Linked DNA regions of Homo sapiens: region 1 is linked to region 2. Evidence: fine-mapped expression QTL. Tissue or cell type: whole blood. Region 2 holds a variant in brackets; the other region holds the start of a gene. All regions are shown on one strand. Distances are between the middles of the regions.

Region 1 (2,617 bases), 17 kb before region 2:
TAGGAATGAGCATGAGGTTGATTCTGAGGTGCCTGTGTTTTGCTTCTTGATCTAGATTACATAGGTTTGTTCATTCTGCAAAAATGTATTGAGGAATAGACAGATGATTTGTACACTTCTGTGTATGAATGTTATATTGTAAAGTTTCTTGAAGAATACCTGTTTACAAGAGTTAGAGAACATGGAAGCTCTTTCTCTGAGATAAAACATCTAAAAAGACAAAAATTAGCCGGGCGTGGTGGTGGGTGCCTGTAATCCCAGCTACTCGGGAGGCTGAGGCAGGAGAATGTCTTGAACCCGGGAGACAGAGGTTCTAGTGAACCAAGATCACACCACTGCACTCCAGCCTGGATGACAGAGGAAGACTCTGAGACTCCGTCACAAAAAAGAAAAAACAAACAAACAAACAAACAAAAAAGCCCTAAGTCATATCATGCCAGTCTCAGCAGTTTGAAACCCTCCATGGTTCCCATCTCTCAGTAAAAGGCAACGTTCTTATGACATCCTTCAAGGCCCCATGTAGTCTTTTGGTCCCTCTCCATCTCTGTCCTCCTGTCATCCACGTCTCCCACGTGCTGATTGGGTCTGGTAGGGTGACTGGGTGGCAAAGACCTCACAGAGGTGCCTTTCTGCTCAGGTGGCAAACAGGAGAGTCTATCTGGGCCCTGCAGGATGGATCCTTCCTGAGTCACTGAATATATTGGAGGTGCAGACAGCGCCAGAGAAAGGCATTGAGCCTGCCAGATCAGACACCGCCTCTTAGGGTCGACGGAACACCCAGGAGCAAAGACCAGAAATTGTGGGAGAAAGGCCTGGAAGGGGGCCGGGGAGAGGCACAGAGACAGCGAGGTGATGCAGGCTTGGTGGGAGCGGGTATGGTAGGCAATGGGGGACAGAGGGGCAGGGCACAGACAAAGCTTGCTGAAGATATGAAGAGCAATTGTGAGCCGGCGAATCCTTGGAGTAGAGGAGAAAATTGAGGTCTCCTGTTCAGCCCGATGCAGGTGAGATGCTGTTGGAACACGTGACAGAGAAAGGGTGTGTGAGCCCAGGGCTTGTGCACTAAGCGCACAGGAGCGAAGGGGGCGAGAAGAAAAAACGACGCCCAGCAAAGAGCGTCAAGGCCCAACCGCCTGCCCCCAACCGGTCTCTAGCGCCTCGTGACCTTCTGCACTCCGTTGCAGGCGTTTGGCACCAGATGGTCCCACGCGCTCTGTTCGACGGTTGGGGGCCGCGGACGCTGGTTGTCAGCAGCACTGGGTCAGCCGGTGAACGGGTGTGCAGCGTCCTCAGCGCCGCAGCAGTCAGCACCTGTGGGTGCTCTAGCTCTTTCCCTCGGGGTCACCGGAGGCAGAGCCTCCCCTACGCGGAGTAGAGGAGCAGCTCACATGGTGCGGGGGTGGGGATCGGGCTTCCTGGAAGGCTGGAAATGGGAGTTGGGATAAGGGGTTGGCGAGGGCGGGGCGGCACCGTCTACCGGGGTGACCGGTGTGCCCTGGCAGCCAGGGAGTCTGCTGCAGGGCAGGTATTAAGATTCGGAGAGACATAGGACAAAGAACCCTCGGCCTCTTCTTTTCAGGCAGCCGCCACAGAGGACACCAGATCATGCCAACACCCCCACAACTCCTGCCCGCCTGCAGGCAGCTCTGGGCTCAGGACACCGCCTGCAAGAACCTTTATAGCGCAGCTCTCCAAACCTTGGAGGCGAGGACATTCTATGTGCCCGCCCTGGAAAGGCCTGAACCTATAACATCTGGGCTGTGATGGTTTCTGAGGTGGACACCAGGTATTCTAAACTGCCCACATGCTTCACCCCAAAACTTCCCTTTCTAACAGGCAGTGTATTTTCACTTCTTTTAAAATATTTGGTAAAACAGCATTTAAGCCTTAGAAAGTTCCCCATCTCACCCCAGCCAGGGTTTGAACCCATGCTGTCTGATTCCACAGATCATGCATTTAACCACCAGACTTTGGTGTAGCCTCACCGTGTGTGCATAATGGATTACACTTGTTTATAATACTTGGGGTGCTTAGCACCATGTCAGAGCTGTAATGAGTACTTGCACTGTTAGGAGGTCTAACATGGTTCAATTTATAAGTGGACCATTGGCCACACCGGGTCTGGCTCAGTCTCCTGGGAGGATGTAGGCAGGGACCACCAATTATCAGCATATCTCCATGATGAATTTCTCCAGACAGCGTATCACTCTGTCACACAGGCTGGAGTCACAGCTCACTGCAACCTCGAACTCCTGGGCTCAAGAGATCCTCCCACCTCAGCTTCCCAAGTAGCTGAGACTGCAGGCATGCGCCACCACGCCTGATAATTTCTCTTCTAATTGAGCTTTGCAGAAAGCCACACAGCTGTCTGAGAGCTATTTTCTCCCAGGTATAGGGACAGGAAATGGCACCTCAGACTTCTGCAGATTCCACCCTGGCTTAAAAGCCCATGCCCCCAAGGACACCAATCTTTCTTACAATAACATAGACTATCTTTCAGGGTCCTGGCCAAGATGGACAACTTGCCAATATTAACTTTTCCAGGCCACAGGGATGATATATATCTCCATAGATTTAGGTCTTGAGTATTTTCTCCTAGAAATATTTCGCAGCAAGG
Region 2 (2,757 bases):
CAAGACAGGAGGAAACCCCCCCAAAGCTTAGGTCTTCCAGGATAACACTGAAACTAGAGTGTAGTGTTGCACGGCTGATACTCACCCATCTCTCTCTTCTCTCCACAGGTGAACATCTTAGGCTAGTGTGTCGACTTCTGACTTGGCTCATCTGAACCCAAGTCCTTGGACACATTCACAAACACCCCAGGGTCTTGGGCTTCCAGTTTGTGCTAGAAGGACAAAGGGCAGGTGAAGCTTGTTTGCCGTAACTAGAAGGAGCAGAAACTGCTCCCAGCAGAACAAGATCAAATCATGGGGAACAGTGGTCACCTGCCATTTCTAGAGGAAGCTTTTGCTTTTGGTCACTGAGGACCCTAAGTCTTACATGAGAAGAAAACAAATAGGGTGATGCTGCATGCTTCTGTCCCCAAAGAATCCCTGTGCAGGTGCCGAGGGTGCCCCAAAGACGAGGCTGTGCTTGCCGTGCCCACCACAGAAGCACATTTGACCTGATCAAAAGCAGGTGGAAAAGGTCCTGAAGCACAGATATTTTCTCAGTGATGTTGTTTTCTCCAAAATGAAAGAGGGAAGGTACCCTGGCTTAGGCCCCTGGTGTTCTGATTGAAGGTGAGAATGGAAGTATCTTCTTCAACATGTTCTCCCATCTGACTGCAACAAGTGTGCTCCAGCCACCAGTGTCCCAGTTGCTCTGAATGATGGTGAGAAGGGTACCCAAACACTTGAATGGTACTGTACCCTCTACTTGCCATCTGAATCCTCACTTGTGGAACCCAGGCACTCTGGCTGTATTCGCGAGTAAGCATAGGTGTGGGACTGTGTCCTGCCATTGCACCATCTTTAATCTGGACTTGTGGACCTCAGGCTCTCTGACTATTCATGGACAGAAGTTTCTGCAGGCACAGGTGGGGTGCTGTTTCCTCCCATTGTACACCTGAATTCAGGACTTGTGGACCCCAGGTGTTCTGGCTGTGTTCATGAACAGAAGTGTCCCCCCCAAACAAACCCATATATGGTGCCATCTCCTCCCATTACAGGTATGGTGCCATCTCCTCCCATTGCAGGCATTGCACTGCCTATACTCTGGACTTATGGCCCTCACATGCTCTGATTGTATTCATAAACAGTAGTTTCTTCAGTCACAGATATGGCACCAGCCCCTCCAACAGAAACAGATGTGCTCAAGCTGAGTGGTCCAAAGGCGTTTGACAGAAGTCATGAACAGAAGTATCTTGGGGCACATGTTTCTTCTCTGTTGTGCAGGCTTCTCCAGCAGTAACAGGTTTGCCCAGGCCATATGGGCCCCAAG[C/T]GCTCTGACCAGACACAAGAAGAGAAGACTTGCAGTCACAGGTAGTGTGTTGTCCCCTGCTACTGCAACATAGGTGCTTGGAAAGGTGCAACAGGGTGCTCTGCTTGTGGTGGAAACATAAAGGCCTCCAAGCATAGATGTGCTGCTTTCTCCTTCCCTTTGAGGGATGCAGATGTGCTCTGGCCAGCTGCATTCCAGGTGGTCTGTCTGCAAGACAGAAGTGTCCCAAGCACTGGTATGTGCGGGCTCCTCCAACCACAACAGACGTGCTTTGGCCAGATGGTTTCCAGGTGTTATGAACACAAGAAGGAACAGAGGTGCCTTCTGGAACATGTTTCTTCTCAGTGATGTTCTAAGAGGTGTGCTTTGGCAGGACAGGCCCCAGCTGCTCTGACTGTAGGCAGGGAGGAAAGTGTTTCCCAGGAGTTTTTGCTTTCAGTAGTACTGCCCTCTCCAACTGTACCAGAGGTGCTGTAGGCTTGCAGGAACCCCGGTGCTCATGTGTAAGCCTCCCCAACATAAACTAAGGTGCTGCATGCCCCTCTAGGCCCTGTTCTAAAGCTGAGTGCTTCAGATGTGGAGCTGGGTCTGGGGCAGACACACTGGTCCTAGAGCTGTCATTATCCAAAGAAGCCCCAGAGTCCATGAATGGAAATGGGTCGAGAGAGGGGTTAGCAAAAGGTGAACTGTGCCTGATGCTGAGCATCCAGTGATGGCTCCAGAGCTAGAAGTAGTGGCTGTGCAAATGGGAAAAGGACCCGAGGTGCCACCCAAGGCTGAGTGGGTGCTAGCAGAGATATCAAAGATGGATATGGAGGTAACACGTACGCAAAATCTGATGGCATTATGCTCCCATTGGGTGTCTGGGCTGCAGTAAAGGCTCAGTTTAGAGCTTGTATTGAGATTTTACGTTTCTCAAAGGGTAAATGCTATCAAATACATTGGGGGATCCTGCCAGGGGGAGGCTAGAAAGAGGACATGGTAACCATATTGATTTCATCAGAGTTAAAGGCAGACTTGGCTGCCCAGTTGGTCAAGGTCCTAGCTACTAGAAAACAGACAATTGCTGAAGTAGTGATAAGTATGATGGTGCAGACAGGTATCCTAGAAGACTGACTCTTTGCTGCTGCCCTTTAGGAGCTCCAAATGTGACTGAGAGGTGGCTTCTGGGCTAAAGGAAAGGTTCAAAGTGGGGTAGGGCTGTTTACCATAAACATAGGTGGGTTAGTGGGGACTGCCTTTTGCAGGGGGCTGTCCACTCCACACTGCAATGAGCCAGTCAAATGGGAGTTCCAAGACCAGAGGAAACCTAGCCCAGAGCTTGAGTCTTCCAGGCTAACCCTGGGTCCTGGGGGGACCAGGAGATGAGACCCAGGGAATAGTAGTGTCCATGTCGGTCATCTCAAAGGTTCAAAGCAGGCTGGGAGGTCAAGTCTGCAGATGGGCTG

The links. PIP is the estimated chance that this variant, and not a neighbour inherited with it, causes the effect.
Region 1: LINC01801 starts here. The variant in region 2 is fine-mapped to the expression of LINC01801 in whole blood (TOPMed, PIP above 0.99). The same link has a PIP of 0.9 or more in testis.

The regions. Positions count from the first base shown.
Region 1 is chr19:34,831,499-34,834,115 of GRCh38, reverse strand. It overlaps LINC01801 (long intergenic non-protein coding RNA 1801), which reads left to right and starts at 1,247. Exons shown (of 6, transcript NR_033982.1): 1 at 1,247-1,391; 2 at 1,580-1,786.
Region 2 is chr19:34,814,842-34,817,598 of GRCh38, reverse strand. It overlaps LINC01801 (long intergenic non-protein coding RNA 1801), which reads left to right. Exons shown (of 6, transcript NR_033982.1): 6 at 109-1,445. Among named protein-coding and RNA genes, the nearest start is that of LINC01801, 17 kb to the left of the region's middle. The variant C/T (reference allele first, on the strand shown) is at 1,310.